Homo sapiens: one gene and its partners. The protein of the gene in region 1 purifies or fractionates together with the protein of each later gene. This does not show direct contact. Each region holds a gene or a part of one and is shown in the gene's direction. Other genes may lie near its edges.

Region 1 (3,500 bases):
TACTGAATCTCTTTTGCTTTATTTCTTTGTGCCTAGTACACAGTAGTCATATTTATTTATTAAATGACTAAATGTCTTGACACACAATGGGTACATTAGGCTACTTGCCTTCATACCATTAGGCATTTAATCCATTTCTACTTCTGATTCAGTGCTCAGCAAACAAACTTCTAATTATGACTTGGCTTCCTAATCATAATTGATTGACAAAAATGAGAATGTTTTGATCATTAAATCTTCTGATCTGCCATAAGACGTTAATCAACCATGTGAACTTTGTATATAAATTGGGAACTGGAAACTTTGAATTAAACTTTTGCACATTATCCTCCTGAGCTTGGGTGACTCATTGTGTGCTAAGAAAAAAAATCAAATTTCAGAACATGCGAGACCTCGACCCAGGTAAATTCATCATGGTGAGGAACGCCCTTCTAAAAGGCCTTGGAAATCATCTGATGGGGGTACTCTGGCATTCCTGAGTGATAAAGAGTGTCAATTATACAAAATTGTGTTTTATAACAATAGCAATTCTGTTCTGAGCATTTTACATAATTAATTCATTTAATCATCACCACAACCCTATATGAAAGGTTAGTCAGTTCCAGACTTGTTGTTATGTGTTAAACAGGAGTTCCCATAATCAAAATTCATTGAGTGTTGAGCAGGACAGATGATGCTAACAATCTAAAGTATCATTCCATCCTAGGGTGTAAACTATACTTCTTCCTTGGTCATTTGTCTGGGATACTAGTCTCAAACTCTTTAAGAAAACCTATCCTTACTAAAGGACCATAGATCAGGAAAAGACCTTGAGAAATTGCTTTACTTTGGCATCAACAACCTTTCTTAAATGGTGTAGTGAGTTTTGATTTGTTTCTGATTGGAGATTAATTCAATGGCTACCAAAATTCACACATATTGATGAAGCTGTAATCAGGGTTACCTGTGAAGAAATTATCTCTCAATCCACAAACCCAAGAAATCCAAAGGACCAAAAGCAGGGAGGTAGAAGTAAAGAGGACTGACCCACTCCCAGTCCATTCTTTCATACCTCTCTACAACCCTGGCCACAAGTCATCAAAAACCATTTCCTGCCGGGTGCGGTGGCTCACGCTTGTAATCCCAGCACTTTGGGAGGCCAAGGTGGGCAGATCACGAGGTCAGGAGATCGAGACCATGGTGAAACCCCATCTCTACTAAAAATACAAAAAAATTAGCCGGGCGTGGTGGCGGGCGCCTGTAGTCTCAGCTACTCGGAGAGGCTGAGGCAGGAGAATGGCGTGTACCCGGGAGGCGGAGCTTGCAGTGAGCCGAGACTGCGCCACTGCACTCCAGCCTGGGTGACAGAGCGAGACTCCATCTCAAAAAATAAAAAAAACCATTTCCCTTTATGCTTTAAGCTGCATGCATGTGGCCATGAAATGTCATTTAGAATGCATCTCACTTCTTGTCTTAGAACAAGTTCCTTAATAACCCATTACAGCCTATAACAAACCTAAATTAAACCTATTACTGTTCTTTATTTGTTGCTAAAATACCTCAGGCTTCTTCAGTTGGTTCAGCACTCTGTACATACCTTGGTAATAGCAGGTATGGGTTTAATGATACTGCAATCTGAATGAATACCTCACATCCTGCTATATTGAGCTCTTGAGAAGTAAGGCTGCTTTTCTTTGTCATGTTGCCTGGCCCAGGAGCTGACAAGCCAGTAGTACTCATTGAAAAATGAATGCTTGTTAGAGGAATGAATGAATGTTGTCAGTTTTCATTATCTACTGATCCCCTGCATTATGGTAGAGTACTCCAGCTTTTTAGTTATTCACACATTTAGAACAGTAGACAGAGTATTATAAGCTTTGGGTTAAGACAGCTTTGGGTTGTGCCTCTCCCATTTGTAAGCTCACTTCAGAGACGGCAACCTTTCTGAACTTTAGTTTTTCCTCATCTGAAAATGGGACTTAACTACCTTCTTTGGAATCCTCTTAAGTGAGATAATGTATGGTGAAACTAATGAAAATAAACATTCTTTTCCCTTTTTTCTTCTCATGGATATTTTTCAATTGACATTTTTGTGTGTTTCTCAGGTGTGGGTTGCTGACCGAGGAAATAAAAGAATCCAAGTATTTGATAAAGACACTGGGGAGTGGTTAGGAGCATGGAATAATTGTTTCACAGAAGAGGGACCTTCTTCAGTCAGGTAATTGTTTCATTTTATTGCAAAATGCTTGTTTTAGTTAGTGTATGTGTCTCACTTCCTCTGAATAGCTAGCTGAAAGTTTAAAATATTTATTGTTAATTTTGAATTAGGGGAAAATAGAAATATACAGAGAAATTTGATATCCAAGATTTTCAGATGCCAGGTAAAGTGAAAACAAGAAATAACATATGCTAGACCTCTCCTCTAGCCTTTATTTGGTAAATGTTTAAACAGGACAAAAATCAAACCCAGCCTAACATCAATTCTTCATTAATTTCATTTTGTGGACTATGATATTGATACTTTTAACAAATTTAAGCTAATCTTTGGCTTTGCTTACCATCATGGACATCTTATTCCTTCATAAACAGAATTAGATCAAATTAAAATTCTTCTTAAAAGAATCATTCAGCAAGTAGGTGCCTACTGTTGTTTGGCACAGTAGGGGATTAAAATGTTGAAAAAAAATACCCTTATGTTTTTTCACAGACATTTATTATGTTAAATGTCTTTCTCCTTAGGTTTACTCCTGATGGGAAGTACTTGATTGTGGCCCAGCTGAATCTTAGCAGGCTCTCAGTCGTAGCAGCACCCCCAGTGGGAAGCATTGGGGAGTGTTCTGTGATCAGCACAATCCAACTAGCAGATCAAGTTTTGCCACATCTCCTAGAAGTCGACAGAAAGACTGGAGCAGTCTATGTAGCAGAAATTGGAGCAAAACAAGTACAAAAATATGTCCCTTTGAATAGCTATGTTCCTTCATTTGGTTCATAATGTTTCTTTCCTGGGAATATTTCAAGTGGCAGTTCAGATTCTCAATTCACTAAGTGCTTAAAAATGATGTTCAAGCACAAGAATTTATTTTTCTAGTATAAAAGATCTAGTATCAGAAAGATTTGTTTTTGTATCATTAAGAATCTTATATTTTGTTGCCCTCTTGGGACTTAGTTTTATTTGTAAGTGCATAAGGATATTTTAATGAAAGGAAAGTAACTAAAAAATGGGGTTGGGAAGAGGGACTAAGGTGGTAACCTCATTATTTGCCCTGGTAGACTGATTCTCCCTGGGTAAAAAAAATGGGAATAAAAATGAGCTTGCATGATAATTTATTAAATTTCATGTGAAGAACTCCAGACCTCCAGATTGTGCAACTAACATAAAATGAGCTGCTTGAGAGATTGTAAATAAGATGAACTATTGATTAATTTGAGTACCCACAGAGTGCTGTGTCTTGACGACTTAAAAATGAAAAAGCAGGATTGCCTTTTGAGTAGCTTGCAGTCTAGTGGGGAGACAAGCAGGC
Region 2 (3,500 bases), on another chromosome or scaffold:
GAATTCCACAATTCAGCTTTCAAAGACTGTAATCTATGGCAAAGCCTTGTTTCTTCTTAATAGCATTTACCACATTTACAATTATCTTATTTTTTATGTGTTTGTTTTTATTTCCCACAGAAGAATGCAACTCCCATGAAGATAAAAACTATTCTTTTTTGTTCAGTGTGTCCCCATTGCCTAGCGTAGAGCCAGGCTCATAGTAGCTGTTCAGACATGTTGGGTAAATGAATGATGGCTGAATCTAGTAGTAACGAAAGCTAGTAGCCTATGTTACACTCTTTGACATGGTTACGCAATTGATAGTTTAACAATAACACTTAAAACTTACATCATTTGATTGTATACAGGAATATATCAGATACTTAAGGGGGTAGAGAAACCAATCGTTTAGAGGCCCAACCATTTCATTCAAAAAATAGGACTGACCTGAATTTTGTACTTTTTTTTGAGTTGAGCAAAATTCGTCTTCCTTTATTAAAGTTGTTAAATTATTTGCTATTAATGTAACGCATGAAAAGTATTCAAATTATACCAATGATGTGCTCATGGAACTGATTTGAAATTAGGTTTTATTTGGCTTATCAAAAATTTAAGATACTAGGCTGGGTGCGGTGGTTCATGCCTGTAATCCCAGCACTTTGGGAGGCTGAGATAGGTGAATCATCTGAGGTCAGCAGTTCAAGACCAGCCTGGCTAACATGGTGGAGTCCCCGGCTCCCCCCCACCCCATGGCCCGGTCTCTACAAAAATACAAAAATTATCCAGGTATGATGGCGGGTGGGAGCCTGTAATCCCAGCTACTCAGGAGGCTGAGGCAGGAGAATCGCTTGAACCTGAGAGGCGGAGGGTGCAGTGAGCTGAGATCATGCCATTGCACTGCAGCCTGGGTGACAGAGTGAGACTCTGTCTCAAGAAAAAAAAAAAAAAAAAAAAAAAAAAAAATATATATATATATATATATATATATATATATGTATGTATATTTAAGATACTACGCTCTATAGTGAAAATGAATTGTGTCAGTACATGAAGCAGATTGAGTTAATGACATCAATCTTAACCTTAGATAAATTCTTACGGTTTAATAAAGGAATGTTTGGCTGGGCGTGGTGGCTCACGCCTGTAATCCCAGCACTTTAGGAGTCCGAGGCAGGCAAATCACCTGAGGTCAGGAGTTCAAGACCAGCCTGGCCAACATGGCAAAATCCCATCTCTACTAAAAATCCAAAAACTAGCTGGGCGTGGTGGCGTGTGCCTGTAATCCCAGCTACTCAGGAGGCTGAGGCAGGAAAACTGCAACCCAGGAGGTGGAGGTTGCAGTGAACTGAGATTGCCCCACTGCACTCCAGCCTGGGCCTCAGAGCGAGACTTTGTCTCTAAATAAATAAATAAAGGAATGTTGAAATACACAATTGGAAGTTTCCTTGAGGAGTCTGTTTTGTTACTACCTCTGGCTATTGTCTTGAGATGCAGAGGCAGTTTTAGTAATGTCACTCAGTGGTTTACAGTAGAAGATTTCACTATATATACATGTTACCAATTATAAATTAGGAGATGTAATGGCAGAGAGAAGCGCATACTCAGCCTACTACTGTTTTTTTCACTTTATATTGCCTTTTCTTTTTTTCCATCAATGCTGATCAAATTGCAATATGTTAGATAAGGAAAAAATGTCTTATTGTCAGAGACTAGCAGTACTGACCAGTTGTTTTTCTTTTGAGACGGGGTCTACCTCTGTCACTCAGGCTGGAGTGCAGTGGTGTGATCTCAGCTCACTGCACCCTCCACCTCCCAGGCTCAAGTGATCCTCCCACCTCAGCCTCCCAAGTAGCTGGGACAACAGGCACGCACCACCACGCCTGGCTAATTTTTGTATTTTTTTGTAGAGATGGGATTTTACCATGTTGCCCAGGCTGGTCTCAAAGTTTTGAGCTGGCGAGATCCTCCGGCCTCAGCCTCCCAAAGTGCTGGGATTACAGGTGTGAGCCACCACGCCTGGCCAGTACTGAACATTTTATATTGGCTAGATCAGTGGTTTTTAAACTTTTTTTCCCCAAGACCCCTTTCTGCTCTTACAAATTTTTGAGGATCCTGAAGAGCTCTGTTAATGTAGTTGTTATTGTTGTTCTTCTTCCTCCTCCTCCTCTTCTTTCTCCTCCTCCTCTTCTTCCTCCTCCTCTTCCTTCTCCTCCTCCTCTTGTTCTTCTTCCTCCTCCTCCTCTTCTTTCTCTTCCTTCCCCCTTCTCCCTTCCTTCCCCCTTTCCACCTCCCCCTTCCTTTCCTTTTCTCCCTTCCTTCCTCCTTTCCTCTTCCCATTTCCTTCCCCCTTCTTGGATGCAGTGACTGTTCACAGGGGCTATCATGGCCAACTGCAGCCTTGTCTCAAGCTCTCCTCCTGCCTCAGCCTCCCTAGTAGCTGGGACTATAGGCACATGCCACTGTGCCTGACTTTTGTTTATGTAGTTTATGTCAACATTTAGGCCGGGTGCGGTGGCTCACGCCTATAATCCCAGCACTTTGGGAGGCCGAAGTGGGTGGATCACCTGAGGTCAGGGGTTCGAGACCAGCCTGGGCAACATGGCGAAACCCCGTTTCTACTAAAAATACAAAATTAGCCGGGCATGGTGGTGCGTGCCTGTAGTCCCAGCTCTTCGGGAGGCTGAGGCAGGAGCATTGCTTGAACTCGGGAGGTGGAGGTTGCAGTGAGCCAAGATCGTGCCACTGCGCTCCAGCCTGGGCAACAGAGTGAGGCTCCATCTCAAAATAAATGAATAAATATATCAACATTTACTGTATTGAAAAAGAAAATTTCAAAATATTTAATATGTTAAAAAATAATAGGGCCGAGCGTGGTGGCTCATGCTTGTAATCCCAGCATTTTGAGAGGCCGAGGTGGGCGGATCACTTGAGGCCAGAAGTTTGAGACCAACCTGGCCAATATGGTGAAACCCCGTCTCTACTAAAAATACAAAGAAATTAGCCTGGCATGGTGGTGGACGGTCCCAGTGGTAGTGCCAGCTACTCAGGAGGCTGAGGCAGGAGAGTCCCTTGAACCCGGGAGGTGGAGGTTGCAGTGAGCCAAGATCACGCCATTGCACTCCAGCCTGGGCAACGAGCAAAACTCCATCTCAAAAAAATAATAATAATAATAATAAACCCATTGCATGTTAATACCCTTTTTTTTTTTGACTGCATCCCTCTGTTGCCCAGGATGGAGTGAGTGCCTCCCGGGTTCGCGATTCTCATGCCTCAGCCTCCTGAATAGCTGGGACCACAGGTACATGCCGCCATGCCTGGCTAATTTTTTGACTTTTTAGTAGAGACAGGGTTTTGCTATATTGGCCAGGCTGGTCTCAAACTCCTGGCCTCAAGTGACCTGCTTGCCTTGGTCTCCCAAAGTGCTGGGATTACAGGCATGAGCCACTGTGCCCAGCCTTCATGTTAACATCATTTCTGAAATGAAAAAGAACTATTTTCCAAACAGATATTTAGTGAGA
Region 3 (3,500 bases), on another chromosome or scaffold:
TGTCAATCAACTTCCCACCACAGCAGAGGTAACATTTTAAAGGCCCAGCTAAGGAGCAAGCATGACTTGTTCCTGTGGAGGCACCAGATGGGTAACTGGGCCCATGGCAAATGAAGAGGAAGGGACTGTGATGTCCTGGAGCAGAGCCACGCTGGGCTGAACCAGTGGTGGATGGGTGTGACTGAAAAAGCAAGTCCAGCCTTTAGGTGCCTGGACTTTGAAGTCAAGGCTGGCTGGTGGAGAACAACTGTTTCAAAACCAGGCATCAGAATTAGATTGAAGTTAAAAAAAAAAAAAACCCAGAAAGAAAGAAAGACACAGCCAGGCACGGTGGCTCATGTCTGTAATCCCAGCACTTTGGGAGGCCAAGGCAGGGGGAATCATGAGGTAGGAGTTCAAGACCAGCCTGGCCAACGTGGTGAAACCCCATCTCTACTAAAAATAAAAAAATTAGCTGGGTGTAGTGGCAGGCGCCTGTAATCTCAGCTACTTGGGAGGCTGAGGCAGGAGAATCGCTTGAACCTGGGAGGCAGAGGTTGCAGTGAGCAGAGACTGTGCCACTGCACTCCAGCCCGGGTGACAGAGTGAGACTCTGTCTCAATAAATAAATAAATAAATAAATAAATAAATAAATAAATAAAGCACAATACTTACTTGGACAGTATTGTCAACAGACCATATTTCTCTCTATCTACCTCTTTTAACTTCAGATAATGCAAATTCTTGTGAAAATTACATTTTTATAAGAAAGCAAAGTTACATGAATTGTAAATATTATGTTTGGAGATGATGCTGGTGATACTTAACTGGAATAAATCCTGCTATTGGGCACTAATGCCCCAAGTTGTTAATACTGGAGGTTTTTTTGCTTGTTGGCATCTATCAGGAATGTAGACCTCAGAGATCATAAAAATAGAAAACCCAGATTCCAGGGGATGTTCTACACCAACCCAGCTTAGCTCAGCAACACAGCATCTTTTTTTCTTCCTTCTTTTTTCTCCTCTCCACATTCTCTGTCTGGAGTCTGCTCTCCGTGGGGATTTTTTCCCATGAAAAACTATGGAAGTGATTCCTCCCTCTTTCTTTTCCCCTCACTCCCTCAACTCCAGCCACAGGCCTTTGTGCTGCTCCTGGAATGTGCCAGGCATGTTCTTTCCAGGGGCCTTTGCATGGCCCTTCTTGTCCAGACTGCTGTCCCCAGACACCTGCCTGTCTCCCCAACTCCTTGCAGGCACTTGCTCAGAATTCAGCTTTGTGGGAAACCTTCCTTAATACGCCTTCCTTTTTTAAATAGTGTTGCCCATTCCTCTTTGCAGTTTTATTTTTCTTCACTGTACTTTAAAAAAATTATATATTTTATTTTCTAGTCTGTCTTCTCCCCTTCCCCCGACTAGGGTGTAGACTCCATGAGGGCAGACATTTTTATCTGTTTGGTCTGGTACAAGCTTAGGGCCTAGAAGAGTGGCTGGCACAGAAGAAGCATTGGATATACAAATCAATATTAAGGAAGTGTGAGAACTAATATTCACAACTTGTTCCTCCTTTTGGGTCCTCCTTCTTTAGACAGTTGTGTACCTCCAGTGTAGCCACAAAACTTTCCAGATGTGAAAAAATAGAACTATTTCAAAATCAATTGCAGAATATATATAGTACCCTTTGCAGATCCCAGATTGCAGTTCAACTCTCCATTCACCAGCCTTCCCTTGAATCAAAGATAATTTTTTTTTTTTTTTTTTTGAGATGGAGTCTCGCTCTTGTTGCCCAGGCTGGAGTGCAGTGGCGCGATCTCGGCTCACCACAACCTCCACCTCCCAGGTTCAAGCGATTCTCCTGCCTCACCTCCCTAGTAGCTGGGATTACAGGCATGCGCCACCATGCCTGGCTAATTTTATATTTTTAGTAGAGATGGGGTTTCTCCATGTTGGTCAGGCTGGTCTTGAACTCCTGACCTTAGGTGATCCACCCACCTCGGCCTCCAAAAGTGCTGGGATTAGAGGCGTGAGCCACCGCGCCCGGCCAAATCAAAAATATTTTTTAGGCCAGGTGCGGTGGCTCACGCCTGTAATCCCAGCACTTTGGGAGACCAAGGCAGGCAGATCACCTGAGGTCGGGAGTTCAAGACCAGCCTGGCCAACGTGGCAAAAACCCGTCTATACTAAAAAAAAATACAAAAATTAGCCAGGCGTGATGGTGGGCACCTGTAATCCCAGCTACTTGGGAGGCTGGGGCAGGGAGAATTGCCTGAAGCAGGGAGGCAGAGGCCGCAGTGAGCCGAGATCACGCCACTGCACTCCAACCTGGGCGACAGAATGAGACTCTGTCTCAAAAAAGATCCAGGTTAAATAGATTCATATTCATTTCAGCATATTTCATTATTCCAAACCACAGAAATAAAGTGTTTCACCAACAATTTAATTCACCCAATATTTACCAAGCTACTACCATGTGCCAAGCTCCCTGTGCTAAGCTTTGCAGGAAATACAAAGGAAAAAAGCAAAGTCCCTGTTCTTAAGTGCTTTAAGATTGAGAAGCAGGTAGAAGGTAGTAAGCAGAGGGAAACAGAAGGCAGAATCTGGTAGCTATTGGTTTTACGACAGAACTCATGCTCTGATGCAATCTCTGGCTCTTGTTTGCATAAGAACCAACACTTTTATGAAGAGGCTCTCATGACTACCCCAGAGGCTTCCACTGTCTTCCCTCCCAACCCAAGCCCTCACCCACCACAGGAAGGGAAGGGGGAAGTAAAAGGTCAAAGCAATACAGAGGGACATTGGGACCTTATGCTGCCCCAGCCTGTGGGAGGCCAGCCTCCATCCTGTTCAGTATTGCAGCTGACATGCAGGATAACACCTGTGAGGGAGGAGCCCATGGGGCGGGGATACCTACTCTGAACCCTGCCAAACTGCTACACCCCAGCTCCAGGAGCAAGGAGAAAGAAGTGCTAACAATGATTTTAATTGCTGGGCGTGGTGGCTCACATCTCTAATCCCAGCACTTTGGGAGGCCAAAGTGGGAGGATCACTTAAGGCCAGGAATTTGAGACCAGCCTGGGCAACACAGACCCTGTCTCTATTAAAAAGAAGTGGTGACGTGCTTATAATCCCAGCTACTCAGGAGGCTGAGGTGAGAGGACCACTTAAGCCCAGGAATTCAAGGCTACAGTGAGCTGTGATCATGCCGCTGCACTCCAGCTGGGCAACAGAGTAAAACCCTGTCATACACACACACACATATGCACACACATACATACACTAACTAGTACAATCAGTTGCTCTGGGAGATACCTCTCAGGGCCTCTTGTTTTTCCTAGTATGCAAGGTAAGGGTACCCTGGCCTTGGGGTGGTCAGTTCTGAAAGATAACCTGCACATTATGAGTTATTTCATAAGCAGTTTTAGAGAAAAGAAAAATATAAACAAACTTGTAGCACAGAAGCTAATCCAACTATTTTGTGAGCTGATTTTTTTTTTTTGTCTGATCTTTTTTTTTTTTTTTTTTTTG
Region 4 (3,500 bases), about 11 Mb from region 1:
GTGTTAGCCACCTCGCCTGGCCAAGAGTGTTATATCCCATTGTGCTCTGCAAAAGTCCTGAGATTCTGATTGTAGTTGATTAGGTCATGTAGCAGTTCTTGACTCAGTTACTGTGGCCAAGAAATGTGGAGGGCACTGATTGCCTTAACCTAGATCAAATGTTGTACACCTGAAGCAGAGATTGAGTCAGCTTTCTTGGAACTGTTTTGATCTCCAGAGGGAAGTCTGTCGGGAGAGGGAGAACAGATACTGCATGTCCACTACAAAGTGCTTAGCACAGCATATTAATTCAACCTTTATCAGTTATTTGATGAGCAGCTGCTCAATGCCAAGCACTGCATGGTCTTTGCCATCAAGGAGGATGCTCTCCAGTTGAAATTACTGGAGGTATATGGAGTAGCCAGATGCAAATTATTTATAAAGGTACTTTCCCAGAATTTGGGGGTTAACTTTTTTAATTAGAAAAAAAAAGATGTTAATGAATTTTTAGTAATCATACAATAGGATCTCAGTTTTGCCTTGTTTAAGGGAGAGCATCTCTTAACCAGTTTAGAATTGTGTTAGAATCTGAAAATTTTGCATTTCTTTTATGTATTTGTACCAAATAATTTTGTTTAACTGTTAATTCAACCTTTTGTTACTATGACCTAATTTTATTTAACCCCTTCTGGAAGAGTCCCATACAGTTCGAATATTCAGATCTGCTTGGCTGGTACAGTTATTGCCAGCAAAGTGGTGGTAGTGGCCACAAGTATGGGGAGTTATGCATTGGTGTATGGGCTATTTCTTACATATTAGAATTATGTAATTCTGTGTATTCTTACATGTTAGAATTATGTATATTCTCTGATAGACATTTTCCTAAATCAAATTGGTACTAGGATCACATCAGGAGACAGTGTCTCTCTTTCTCACTCTCATCTATAGATGTCGTTTCATCTAAAAAATTTTCTACGAGAATAAAGTGCATGTAAGAATGTTAAAACCTTGTTTACATATTTGCAATGTGATTGAAGTAGCTATCTTAATAAACATTTTAAGATCCTAAAGTTAGCAGTTTGTCACTGTCAGGTATTTCAACATAGATGTGTGTTCTTTTTCATATTCCCTGTACTCTTCAGTTCTTACATGACTAATGCACAAGTATAGTAGCTTGTATTTAGTAGGCATTCAGGTGGCTTTTAGTAAATTGTTTTAATTCATTTGAATAGAATTGAAAACTACCAATTTACTAAAGTCTCTTGTGTTTATGTTTTGGTTTAAATTAAGAAATTTATGAAATCATCAAATTGGTTTCCTGGCTAAAAATTAAAAGAGTTAGTCTATTTCTACCTTAAAAGTGTTTTGAACGTTCAATATAATTCAGAGTTATTGCAGTTTACTTGAAACTGCTTAATTAAAACTTACTTCTCTCGCCCAGGCTAGAGTGCAGTGGTGCAATCTCAGTTCACTGCAACCTCTGCCTCCCAGGCTCAAGTGATCCTCCCACCTCGGCCTCCCAAGTAGCTGGGACTACAGGCTTGTGCCACCACACCAGCTAATTTTTGTATTTTTTATAGAGATGGGGTTTTGCAAGGTTGCCCAGGCTGGTCTCGACTTCCTGCACTCAAGCAGTCTGCCCACCTCGGCCTCCCAAAGTGCTGGGATTACAGGTACGAACCACTGTACCCAGCATGCTTAATTAAAACTTATACATACAAATGAATATTACTTATAAATGTTCTCTTAGGAAAAAATAGTGAATTAAATATTTAAAATAATTCAGCTATATTTCAAAGTACTTACAGTGTCCCTATTTTTTGTGGACTGAGTTAGAACTGAACAAATTAATCCTGATTGTTGGATTGAAAATAGAAAACTTGGCCAGGCGCGGTGCTTCACGCCTGTAATCCCAGAACTTTGGGAGGCCAAGGTGGGCGGATCACGAGGTCAGGAATTCAAGACCAGCCTGACCAATATGGTGAAACCCCCATCTCTACTAAAAATATAAAAATTTAGCCAGGTGTGGTGGTGCACACCTGTAGTCCCAGCTACTCGGGAGGCTGAGGCAGGAGAATCACTTGAACCCAGGAGGCAGAGGTTGCAGTGAGCCAAGACCGTGCCACTGCACTCCAGCCTGGGTGACAGAGCAAGACTCCGTCTCAAAAAAGAAAAGAAAAGAAAAGAAAATACAAAACTTTACATAGTGTCTGCATTTTTTGTTTAGGAACAGATGTTGTTATTGTAAAGAATGGAAGAAGAATATGTGGAACAGGAGGTTGTTTAGCCAGCGCACCTTTACATCAAAACAAAAGCTATTTTGAATTCAAAATCCAGTCCACAGGTTGGTATAATGGTACTTTACTATTAAAAGTCCTAATTGTTCTAAATATTAAGAGTAATTTGTAACACATAAAAAAGATTCAGAAGGTAATATAAAAGCACCAAACTCTTAGAAGATCTGGGTCTTCCACCTCTTGTTGTGTGATCCTGGGTAAATTAGTTAATTTAGTTAAATTAGGTTCAGTTTTCTCATCTATAAAATGGGTATTACAGGAGCTGCCCATTCTGCCTCACAGGAACTCTATGTATGAAAGTGTTTTAAGACAAGACATGCTGCATAAATATAAGGCACTAGTATTTTTAATGGGATCCGGATGAACCCTCTTGTTTGGTCAAGCATATAAGGTCAAACATATAAGCAGCATATACTCTTGCTATTTATTTTAGGATTAAAGTCAATCTGTTGATTCTGAGTTTTTCTTTTTTTTTTTCTTTTTTGAGATGGAGTCTTGCTCTGTCACCCAGGCTGGAGTGCAGTGGCGCGGTCTTGACTCACGGCAACCTCCGCCTCCCGGGTTCAAGCAATTCTCTTGCCTCAGCCTCTTGAGTAGCTGGGATTACAGGCATGCACCACCATGCCCAGCTAATTTTTATATTTTCAGTAGAGACAGAGGTTTCACCATGTTGGTCAGGCTGATCTCAAACTCCTGATCTTGTGATCTGCCCTCGTCGGCCTCCCAAAGTGTTGGGATTACAGGCATGAGCCAGAGTTTTTCTCTTAACTCAGTTATTAAGATACCCTGATTCAGTGTTTTGAAGCAGTCATCAAATTCAGAATTCAGATAGAAGTCTGCAGTCTATATTTCTCTTTTTAAAATTTATGGAGTTTCTTGAACTGTAAAGCAATTCTATGTGATTATAATAGGTTAGTTAACTGTGCCTGTATTGTATATGGGAAAACTTTTAAAATAAAAGCTTTACTGTAAAGTGATCGGGCATAGTGGCTCACACCTGTAATCCCAACACTTTGGGAGGCCGAGGTGGGCAGATCACCTGAGGTCAGGAGTTCAAGACCAGCCTGGCCAACATGGCGAAACCCCATCTCTACTAAAGATACAAAAATCATCCAGGCATCGTGGTGGGCACCTGTAGTCCCAGTTACTCGGGAGGCTAAGGCAGGAGAATTGCCTGAACCCGGAAGACAGAGGCTGCAGTGAGCTGAGATTATGCCACTGCAC
Region 5 (3,500 bases), on another chromosome or scaffold:
CTGAGGCTTCTGAGGACAGCTACCTCCCCTCCCCTTGGGTGTGCAGGCTGCCGAGTGGTGGGTATTGCCTTATAGCTGCTCTGCCCTGCAAGGCCTATCATGGCAGCTGAGGGGGGTCAGGCTGCCCAGAAGTGGCCTTGTCTCTCCTGGATTTTTGAGTGCACCTGGCTCCCCTGACTAGTCCCGGGGCCACCTTTCCCCTCCTCTCATCTGCAGAGCCTGAGGGTTCTCTTCAGAAACCCCTCTGGCCTTCCCCAAACTCTCCTGAGCTCCCATGGTGGGGACACCACTCAGTAGGGCCCTTCCTTCCCTAGAGGCTGCTGTGTCCTCCTCTGCCCACCCTCACTGTTCCCAAACTTGCCAAGTCGCGCGCGCATGTGTGTGTGTGTGTGTGTATGCACACACACGTGTGACCCAGTTCTCACTCTCCACTCTGAATCCCCAGAGTCAGGTCTCTCAGGTGGGCCCCTAAAGCCACTATTCCATGTGGCAAATCATGACACTGTGATCTTCCAGATGGGGTGATTCCTCTCCCACAAAGGGTGGCTGAACAGTGCAAGTGGCTCCCCAGGGCCGCAGGGCAGGGCCCGGTTCCCTCTGAAAGGCCCTACCCAGCTGATCTGTGTTGACTGAGCTCACACCCCTCCCTGGGTATCTGAGGGCACATGCTCACCCTCCCTCCTGCTCCTGGCTCACACCTCCCCTTCCCATCTCCCACTGGTGGCTGGCCCTGGCTTTCAGTTTATCCTCACTTTCTGCCTCCAGATCTCAACTCCTTCCAACAGACCTCTAAGTGGATCGACGACGTCAGGACAGAGAGGGGCAGTGATGTTATCATCATGCTGGTGGGCAACAAGACGGACCTGGCTGATAAGAGGTAGGTGCAAGGGCACACAGGTGCAGGGTGCCACCCTCCACTCCTCTGTAACTGCTCCTGGACAGGGAGCTCTGGGATGCATGGGTGGTGTGTCTGTGCTTCTGACCATGCATCCGGAAAAGGTCCCTTGAGACACTAGGAGCTTTGAGGACACCTGGTAGACTCTCATCCATGGGTATCTCATCTGTGAAGCCCTGTCTTCCACCACCAGGCAGGGGCGGGGCACTTCTCCGTTTGCTGTCTACACAGAGCACTGTGCACCTGGCTTGACCCAGCAGTGCATGGTCTAAGGCCCTGCCATGGCCACAGCCCTGCCCCAGACACAGCAGTCCTCTAGGCCCCAGCGTGTGCACTGTGAACTGTCTGTGCCTGTGAAGTGTCTGCACCAATGTGCGTGGGGCTGTGAATGCCCTGGGCCCTAGGTGTGAGCATGCAGAGCATTCAGACCACAAACCTATGGCCGTAGCCTGCTTAGCCTGGTTTGTGGCTGCGTCTGGCATGAAGCTTTCTCTGAAGAGGCTCCTCCATGCTGCCCTCCATGCACAGGGAGAACTGAGGTGCCATGTGTGTACATTGTCCACTCATTTTACATGACCCTGACTTGGGCAGATAAAGTGACAGGCCATGGACTCCAGCAAGCAGTGTGGGCTTCCTGCAGCGTCCCTTGACCACCTGAGGAATCATCTGAATTAGAGCCTGCTTTACTAGAGTTCTGTCCTTAAAGTAAGGAAAACTGGGCTCAAATCCCAGTACAAAGGGTACCCAGGCCCTTCATACCCTCACCCACTTCTGCCTGCCCCATCATGGAGCCCTCTCTGCTAAGTAGCTTTGTGGCCCTGGGGGAGACACTTTTAGCATTAGTGTTCTCACAGGGAAAATGCGACTGATAATACCACCCAGAGTGGCACTGCCTGGCTTGAATCTCTTCATAAGCACAGGCTCTGCAGTAGTGACTACTGGGAAAGGCAGGTATGGGGCAGCCCTACCCCAGGGCCTGCTTTGAAGCTGAGAAGACACAAAGGAAGGAGTGGGGGAAGCGGATAGTGTCCTACTGTTCCCTGGTGCCTGCTTTGTGCTAGCGAGACTGTGGTTGGTGCCCGGGAGGGACCCTTGGGATCAGAGCCTGTCTTCAGGACTGACCAAGGGCCCAGTGGGCTCCCTCTGCCCTGCTGGGTGGGTCCCTCCTCATATCTGCCAGGGTCTGCTTCTCTGCTGAGCTGATTTCCCCCCTTCCCCTCATCTCTAGGCAGATAACCATCGAGGAGGGGGAGCAGCGCGCCAAAGAACTGAGCGTCATGTTCATTGAGACCAGTGCGAAGACTGGCTACAACGTGAAGCAGGTGAGGACACACCTGGCACGGGGCCCGGCACGGGGCCCGGCACGGTGTAGCCCTGTGGTCAGCTGCAGGCTCAGAGCTGCCTTGCCCTGAAGGGCTGGTGATGGGATTGGGGCAGCCAACCAGAACACCCATAGATGCGCCCAGGGAGGGGAGAGCTAATTTCCGGAGCTGGTAAAGCCCAAAAGAGGGAGGGACCACTCCGGGCATGGCATCTGGAGAACATAAGTCACCAGCCACCGTAGTAGTTGCCAGTCACGGCCCACGTAGCAGGCCCTAAGAGTGTCCAGCCACCAGCTTCCAGGAGGCTGAGGGAAGCAGTGGTTCCCTAGCCCCTCACCCCACTTTGGATGACAGGTGCAGGAAAATTCAATCTGATCAGCATTTGGGGTTCATGCCTTGCGCTTAGCAAGTGCTCAGGGCTGTGGAGGGCAACTCAGGCCTGGGGGAAAGAGCCTACCATGATGTGGTTGGAACTCACAGGAGGGCGAGGCAGTGGAGTTAGGGCTGAGCCTTGCAGCATGAGGGCCCCTGAGTAGTCCATGGGTGGAATTTAGCAGGTCAGCAGACAGGGCTGGAAAACATTGCACCTTTATCTTCACTAACCACTGACCCGTCCGTAGCACTGAAGGACGTCTGATTTGTCCTTCAATGATGAATGTAGGCAATGACACTCAGTCACATTAGCAGTGCCTATGGCTTTACCACCAATAGAAATCACAGATGCCTTCCCATCACCTCATAGTGTTGCAGGTATCTTGAACTTCACATCTATCAGTGTTTCAGCATCACACTACTTATTAGATCTCTTGCTAGTTCTCGCTGTTCAATGTGTTTCATAAGGAAGCACAAATGTCGATGAAGTTTTATTTCAGTACTCAGTAGTCCCCTTTATCATCCTATGTAATTGATTTCACATACTTCAAAGGAGTCCATAGGATTAACCAGATTGCCAGAGGGGTCCTTGGCTCACGGAAGGGTTAAGAACTCCTGCCGTTGGGGATGAGAAGGACTTGGAGAGGTGGTGAGGAGGGAGGGCATGCCAAGCAGGGGAGCAGCAAAGGTGTGGCTGCAGGGTGCCCGAGGTATGGGGAGGGGACTCTGGGTGAGGAGTGTGGTTGGCCTGGCGGTCGCTTCTGCCCTGCCACCCCAGCATTGCTGGGAACCCTTGGCAAGCTGTGTATACAGCACTGGCCTTCTGGATGCAGTGATGGTTTGCCCTGTGTGGACAGTGCTGGTGGCAGTGGGGAAGGTGGGCTGGCAGAACGACAAGAAGAGACAAGAAG
Region 6 (3,500 bases), on another chromosome or scaffold:
CTGGGGTGGGCCATTTGGGGAGTCCTCTGCACCTCGCCACACCCCGCCCTCTTCCTGCTTCTGTTTGACACCTCCACCCCGCCTTTTGGCAGATGACAGACTGGAGAGTAAACAGCAGATGCGTCTGGCAACGCATGCAATGGAGGAAAGAGGACGGAGCACAGGAGGTGGGACAGGGCAAGGCGCAGCTGGGGCACCAGACCAGAGGATGGCCAGGACGTGCCTGTGGCCAGCAGTGCCTGCAGTGTTTGGCAGAGGGAAGGGGACAAGGCAGAGGGGAGGGGAGGGCTCTGCGTGTTGGGCATGGGACTGGACGCCTCTGGCTCCTAAAGAGTCCCACCGGCTATGGAGGGGCGTGCCAGGTAGTGGCTTCCATACCGTTCAGGCAGGTGTAGGTAGGAACTGGACGGTGGCCAAGGGCAGGTCACCCTGCCTGGATCAGCTGTCACATCTGCAGAAAGGGGCAGGAACACCCACATTTGGCTGCTGGCCTCACAGGCAGCTTCTAGAGTCTGGCTGGCCCTTTGTCTATACCACAGGCCGTGTCTAGGGGACAGAACAAGGGGACCCAGGGCATGGCAATGTTCTGAGCAGAGAAGGTGCACAGGGAGCCGTGGGGACAGCGTAAGCCATTGGGCCTTAGGGCAGGGGCCTCGGTCAGCTCCTAAGGCTCCCCCAGGTGCAGTGTCCGTTGCGCCATTTTATTACAAGACGCAGAGCCGCTGGGCCAGCACTGCTAATATCTTTGAACACACCCGCCTCCCTGGTGTGGTTCCCCAGCAGCTGTCCCTGCAGCGGGAGGCCTTGGTCCAGAAGGGTTATGTGGGACATGGGCGCAGGAAGGACAGGTGAGGCTGACAGGCTTGGTCATTCCAGGGACCATGAGGGCTTTCGCTGGCTCAGGTGCCCCTTTCCCCTGCCGTTGCCCCTGTTGGTGCCTGCTAGACCTCCTGTGCACAGAAGGCCTTGGCAGAGGAGAGAGCCAGGCCTGGGGCAGTAAAGGAGAAAGCTTCCCCTCCAGTCCTCTGAGGGCCCCGGACTTAGATGGCTTTCAAATGAGTGTCTGTCTTCAGCAGCTCACCCTCCCAGCTTTTTCAGAAACCAAAGAGTAAATTGCTCACGGCTTCTCTAAGTGGCTCACACACAAAAAACCCGAGTCATTTCAATGGCTGGACCCAGAAAATCGAGCCCTCTTCTCTCCTCCCTGTCTCTGGCCCCCAACTCTGCCTCAGTTGCCCTGGGGTCTCACTGTCCCCTCAAGACACTGCCCCTGCAGGCGCAGGCAGAGAGGCCTTTGTTCCCCTCAGCTGTGTCCCCTCAGCTGTGTAGAGAGGATGCTGCCGTCGGACACGTGGTAACTGAGCCTGCTGCCACCCCCACCCGTGATGGTCAGTAGGTCGCGTGCCATCTGGGGCTACTAGAGCCGGCCCACTGTGCATACTACATGTGCCTGCTGGGTGCTCTGGGCTCTTCTCGCACTCCTGCACTGGCAACCGCTTATCTTTTTGAGCTGGGTCTTAAAGGTGGAGAGGTCTGACCAAGGGGCGGTCACTCACACTGGCATTCCAGTGAAGGGCATGGCCCATGCAGAGACCAGGGGTGATATACCCGTGTCCTCCTACCTGCAGACCGTGACGGTGCTGGGGAGGGGAGGGGGCACCAGGCCACATCGGGAGGGCAGCAGGTAGACGCTCCAGCCCCTCCACGGCAGAGGCCCTGAGCTTTGCAGGGGTGAGGAGGCTGTCATTCAGAAACGTCGCTGCCAGGGAGAAGGGACTTAGAGAAGGGAGCCTTGTGGCTGTGGCCCATGGCTGCCCTCACCACCAGGCTCCTGCCTTCAGGTGGCCAGGGGCCATCTGAACGCCCAGGGGACCTGGGTATGGGGTTGGTGTAGACCATGTCTTGGCCCTTCCCAAGGTGCCGGCTTCACCTCCATCCCTCTGTGCTCTGGTGCTGACCTGGCATTTGCAGTTATGTGCCCTAGTGGCAGCCGCTCGAGCTTGGCTGCCAAGACCCACGGTGTGGTCAGACCACTGTGTGCGGCTGAGGAATGAGTTCCTCCCAGGAGGGGAAAGCCCTCGGGTCAATCGGGGCCCTCGTGCCCACCCGTCACTGCAGGCCAGGATCGTGGCAGGTGGCAACCCCAGCTTTGAGTGCTGCGTCTTCTGGGGCTGCAGCCGCCCACTGTGAGCAGGAGGGTGAGGGCAGGTAGAGTCTGTCCTGCCATGAAGCTGGAGGCTTTGACAGCAGGGGCGGACAGAACTGAGCAGAAACACTTCACAGCCTGGCCACGAGCTCCCCGCTTTGTGCTCCCTCCCTCGCATTTCCCCGTGTTCTGCACCCCCAGAGCTGAGGAGCCAGGGCCCTTGTCCAGGAACAGGCTGGATCGAGGCCTGGTGCCTGCATGCATTCCCAGGTGGGAGCCAGGCAGGTGACCCGGACCCTCCACCAGCCCAGAAGCAGCCCTTCCACCGAGGGGCCTCACACCACTTCTGCCTGCTCCCTCAGTCATTAGGCCCAGCGCTGGCTAGGTGGCTCCAGACATGACCAGCAGGCTCTAAGGCTCATCAGCGTCTTCTGGAGCCTGCACGATACACACACAGGCACAGGCTACACCATGGGAGACCCCATCTGCAGGGTGCCAAGCCCTTGCATGCTTGGGCCTCTGACGGGATCTGTCCCCGCTGCTAACCAGGCACAGGGCAGCTTGCTCTGCAGGTCTTCCAGTCAGCTAGCACAGACCCTGGCCAGTGTCATGACTCTGTGGCCCTGGGCAAGTCACACACCCTCTCTGGGCCATGGGCAGAGGAGCTCATGATGGAGGCATGCCTTGGGCTTCAGGGGATGGTCCCTGAATGGGTGTGGGGCTGGGGCTGAAGGACCCGCCTGTGGGCTGGGGCGCTGAAAATGGGAGAGGAACTGAGCCATTTGTGTTTCCCAGATGGGGCCTGCTGCACTGTGCACAGCGTGTCCTTGCCCTCAGAGTCACCCTTGGGGCCAGAGTCCTTGTGGCTGTAACTCACAGGGTCATTGGCTGGGGCTAGGAGGGCAAGCTTCTCTGTTGGTGGACACATCACACTGTGGTTTTTTGTGTTCAGAAGAAACCTGCCACACTGGCCTGTCTCCATCCATTTGGTCACGGCCCCACAGGAGTGGGGAGCGGAGGTCCATGCGGCCCTATGCCTCCCCTGGACACAGGGTCAGCTAGGAAGGATATGGATAGCCTCTTCTGAGCAGTCAGGGCCTCGTGAGCCTGAGGCAGGAGACAGAAGCCTGCCCCGGCCGCCTCGGGCCCTTACTCCCTGGCCCTTGGTCATTATTGTTTCTAAAACGTTTGTCTCACCTGCTACCTGAAGAAGGTCCCGCCCTCTGGCCCTTGAGGCCCCGAGTGCCCAGGAGCTGCTGCCATCAGCATGGATGGGTGGTACCAGGCAGGCTGTGGGTGCAGGGTGCTTGGGGAGGGCCAGGTGTGCCTTGGGACGTGTGAAGTGGGAGCCTGG
Region 7 (3,500 bases), on another chromosome or scaffold:
CACCCTCCCAAGCCGGCCCTGTGGCGAGGCACAATTGTCCAACTGTCAGCCCAGTGCAGATGGGACGGCGACCCCGCCCCACAAGGCTGCTCAGCTGCCCTCTGCATGCGCTGCATCCCCACCCCACCTGAGCAGCAGATGGCCTTTCCACGTGCACTCTGCCAGGCCTGGCCTCCGGGAGCAGAGGTCAGCTGATACAGACGTGAGGTGCACCTGTGGGGGACCAGGGCCAGGTCCTGGCCTCACGGGGTTGGCTTGGTGTGGGCGTCTGACACACTTGTTTATGGCAGTTCACTTTTGACTTACTTGAAGGAGAACTTTACACCGAGGCCTTAATGGAAAACCAGGGCCACGTGGCACCTGGAGACATGATTCTGATAAGTGGACAGGCTTTTGCCCCGCAGCTGAAAGGCACGATTTGTGGTGGTGAGACGTGCCCTTGCCCGCACCGGAGGAGCCTTTCTCCTGGGCAGAATCAGGACTGAAAGAGACACGCCCTCGAGTGTGCTTCGTGCTGCTGCTGCTCCACCACGTGCCCTGGCCGTGTGGGGCGGGGGTGCTGGCGGGATGGTCCCCAAGGTTGGGTGCATGTTGCCTCGTGGATGAAGTCCTGTGGTCTGGGGTGCTCCATCTGGAACGTGTCAGGTCCACTCATGGCTCCTGCCAGCTGCTTTCGTCTAGGGTAACCTGCCGCCGGGGATGCTGGGGTCCCTGGGCTCAGGGGCTGGGCCTCGGCTCCATCCCATCCTCCCTCCCACGCGTGTTTCAACCCTGGCTGCTCTCAGCCCCCTCAAGGACACCTGCTTTTCCCTCTGCCCTTCCCTCACTGTGGGCTTGGCCTGCACGCCCTCCTGCCAGGGCACGCGGCTGATGGGGACCTGAGGCTGGTACCTGCAGCCACCCGCCGCTGGCCACCTGTGGTGTGACCCCGGCCTCCAGCAGCGTCCGTTCCTGCCTGTGCCCTCCCTGGGCCACCTGGGTGCCGCTAGAGCAGCAGCAGGCACGTGGGCTGCCCTCAGGCCTGTGGGGTGAGGTGTGCCCCCTGACCGCCACAGGTACTGCCCAGCAGTGCCATGAGTCTAGTGTGGCCCCAAACCCTAAATTTTGTTAGTTTAGTTAATAAAGTAAGTCAATTAGTTAATTAACTTGGTTTTGATTGGCACTTAAATCACTCCATGTGGCTGGAGACTTCCCTCAGCCTCGGAGACCCTGGAGGTGGTGACAGCCTGGCCTGGGGGACTCCGGAGCAGCTCAGGTGTGGGTGGCTCCCAGTTTGGTGCTACGGGGTGAGGATGGGTCTGGGGTCTGCATTCGTCTCCAGGGTGGCGTTTGGTCCTGAGTGGCGAGGAGGCCGGCACTGGGCCTCGTTTTGCGGGGTAGGGAGGCCTGCAGACCATCTTCCAAGGTGCCCTGACTCCACCCCTCCTTCCAGGCACAGCGTCACCTTCGTCCCCTCCGGAGCTGCACGTGGCCTGAGCAGGATGGTGCCCTCCAGCCCAGCGGTGGAGAAGCAGGTGCCCGTGGAACCTGGGCCTGACCCCGAGCTCCGGTCCTGGCGGCACCTCGTGTGCTACCTTTGCTTCTACGGCTTCATGGCGCAGATACGGCCAGGGGAGAGCTTCATCACCCCCTACCTCCTGGGGCCCGACAAGAACTTCACGCGGGAGCAGGCATGTGGGTGCCGGGGTGCCGGGCGGCCGCCTGTGGGTGGGTGGGCGGGGAGCAGCGTCTGGAATAGGCACGTGGGCGCCGGGATGCGGGGGCGGCCGCCAGTGGGTGGGCAGGGAGCAGCTTCTGGAATAGGCACGTGGGCGCTGGGTGCCAGGGCGGCTGCCTGTGGGTGGGCGGGGAGCAGCTTCTGGAATAGGCACGTGGGTGCCGGGGTGCCGGGCGGCCGCCTGTGGGTGGGCGGGGAGCAGCTTCTGGAATAGGCATGTGGGCACCGGGGTGCTGGGCGGCCGCCTGTGGGTGGGCGGGGAGCAGCTTCTGGAATAGGCACGTGGGTGCTGGGTGCCAGGGCGGCCGCCTATGGGTGGGCGGGGAGCAGCTTCAGGGGCCAGGGCGCTTTTCCTGTTGGATGTGTGAGCACTTGAGGCTGGAGCGGGTGAGTGGCCGTGTCAGCTGATAATATGGTCCTGGAGGGAACCCGGCTGGGGTCTCACACTCCCAGCAGCGGGCACCATCAGATGGAGGGGCCTGGCTTCGGCCTAGTAACCAGGCTAGATAAAAAGTGATATTGTGTCCTGCAGAGAGAGAGCCTGCCCCACCCCACCCGCCAGGCCGTGCTCATCGGCCCTCCTGGTGAGGAAGCCCACGTCCAACCCTGCTGGGCACCTGCCTTCCACAGAGACTTAGTGGCTATTTACCTAAAGAGATTATTGAAGGAATTTTCATTTTACTCAGCCATGAGGACAAAGGGTCTTATTGAAACTGTTCTAATAGGCTTATGCCCAGTCACGGGTCTCTCAGGTCACATGAGCGGTGGAGGCGGGAGCGGCCGTATCCGAAGCAGTTTCCTCCTGGAGCTGTGGGGTCCTTGTCCATAAGGCACATCTGCACAGGAAGAGCCTGGAAAAGCGCTCTCACAGGCTGCCGGCCCAGCTGGTCACCCCGACACCCCATCCCAGGGCCCTGGGCCTGCTCACCTGCCCATCCCAGCCGCTGACCCCGTCCTCTGCTCCCACATGGCTGACGCTCGGCATGCCTCTTGTTCCCTGTGTCTCCTGGCCGGAAGCCGGACCCCAACCCTCCCAGACCCTAGAATTGTGAAACTGATGTGCAGCTGAGGAGTGTGCTATTGGGACAGTGGAGGTGCTGCCCTTCCCGCGTGCCCAGCTCAGAGCACCGTGCGGTGTGATTGTGTCTCGTCCCACGGCCAGCACTGCTAACCGCCAGGCTGGGTCACTTTCTAGGCGAGGACAGGGTCTTGCCCTGGCTCCGGCTGTCGGTGGCGGGGCTGGGGCTGGAGCGGCGGAGCCATCTCCTTGACCCCTCATGAAATGCCTTCTGCTCCTGGCCAGTCCGTCCCTCTCCCTGCCACCCACTGACCAGATGGCATCTCTGCTCTTAGTGGAGGGCCACTGTCCACCGCCAAGGTTATTTATAGGGGTGAGCATTATGTGTGGCGTTTCCCTTAAAATAACAAAATAAGAAAAGTCTCTAGAGCAAAAATGTTTAAATCCCATCTGCCTGCCCTCTCATGTTGTACATTAACGGATTAAAAAGTAGATTCCAGAAATTAAGCCATTCCACCAGGCCTTGGATATCATCAGAGGGACGATGGGTGCAGGTGCTCTGCGCACCTGCCACTTGGTGGGGCCCCCGATCTCAGCCCCTCTGGCTGCAGGAGAGGCCCGGGGAGAGCTTCATCACGCCCTCCCTCCTGGGGCCCGACAAGAACTTCACGCGGGAGCAGGCACGTGGGCGCCGGGGTGCAGGGGCAGCCACCAGTAGGTGGGCGGGGAGCAGCTTCGGGGGCAAGGGAGGCCCAGCCTGCCAGG

What was found.
Region 2: the proteins of NHLRC3 (region 1) and RAB6A fractionate together in Homo sapiens (co-fractionation; one large-scale study listed by BioGRID). This does not show direct contact.
Region 3: the proteins of NHLRC3 (region 1) and MR1 purify together in Homo sapiens (affinity purification with mass spectrometry; one large-scale study listed by BioGRID and IntAct). This does not show direct contact.
Region 4: the proteins of NHLRC3 (region 1) and SPRYD7 fractionate together in Homo sapiens (co-fractionation; one large-scale study listed by BioGRID). This does not show direct contact.
Region 5: the proteins of NHLRC3 (region 1) and RAB6B fractionate together in Homo sapiens (co-fractionation; one large-scale study listed by BioGRID). This does not show direct contact.
Region 6: the proteins of NHLRC3 (region 1) and HS6ST1 purify together in Homo sapiens (affinity purification with mass spectrometry; one large-scale study listed by BioGRID and IntAct). This does not show direct contact.
Region 7: the proteins of NHLRC3 (region 1) and SLC19A1 purify together in Homo sapiens (affinity purification with mass spectrometry; one large-scale study listed by BioGRID and IntAct). This does not show direct contact.

What each region holds. Positions count from the first base shown.
Region 1 is NC_000013.11:39,044,956-39,048,455, forward strand, and holds part of NHLRC3 (NHL repeat-containing protein 3 isoform a precursor), read left to right. Parts: intron 1-2,084; coding exon 2,085-2,197; intron 2,198-2,718; coding exon 2,719-2,971; 3' UTR 2,972-3,500.
Region 2 is NC_000011.10:73,754,575-73,758,074, reverse strand, and holds part of RAB6A (ras-related protein Rab-6A), read left to right. Parts: intron 1-3,500. UniProt on the Homo sapiens protein: The small GTPases Rab are key regulators of intracellular membrane trafficking, from the formation of transport vesicles to their fusion with membranes.
Region 3 is NC_000001.11:181,040,483-181,043,982, forward strand, and holds part of MR1 (major histocompatibility complex class I-related protein 1 isoform 1 precursor), read left to right. Parts: intron 1-3,500. UniProt on the Homo sapiens protein: Antigen-presenting molecule specialized in displaying microbial pyrimidine-based metabolites to alpha-beta T cell receptors (TCR) on innate-type mucosal-associated invariant T (MAIT) cells.
Region 4 is NC_000013.11:49,929,841-49,933,340, reverse strand, and holds part of SPRYD7 (SPRY domain-containing protein 7), read left to right. Parts: intron 1-2,206; coding exon 2,207-2,323; intron 2,324-3,500.
Region 5 is NC_000003.12:133,836,883-133,840,382, reverse strand, and holds part of RAB6B (ras-related protein Rab-6B), read left to right. Parts: intron 1-765; coding exon 766-877; intron 878-2,123; coding exon 2,124-2,217; intron 2,218-3,500. UniProt on the Homo sapiens protein: The small GTPases Rab are key regulators of intracellular membrane trafficking, from the formation of transport vesicles to their fusion with membranes. Rabs cycle between active GTP-bound and inactive GDP-bound states.
Region 6 is NC_000002.12:128,270,369-128,273,868, reverse strand, and holds part of HS6ST1 (heparan-sulfate 6-O-sulfotransferase 1), read left to right. Parts: intron 1-3,500. UniProt on the Homo sapiens protein: 6-O-sulfation enzyme which catalyzes the transfer of sulfate from 3'-phosphoadenosine 5'-phosphosulfate (PAPS) to position 6 of the N-sulfoglucosamine residue (GlcNS) of heparan sulfate.
Region 7 is NC_000021.9:45,535,941-45,539,440, reverse strand, and holds part of SLC19A1 (reduced folate transporter), read left to right. Parts: exon of another isoform or gene 1-602; coding exon of another isoform or gene 603-682; intron 683-1,432; coding exon of another isoform or gene 1,433-1,481; coding exon 1,482-1,670; exon of another isoform or gene 1,671-1,674; intron 1,675-2,071; exon of another isoform or gene 2,072-3,500. UniProt on the Homo sapiens protein: Antiporter that mediates the import of reduced folates or a subset of cyclic dinucleotides, driven by the export of organic anions.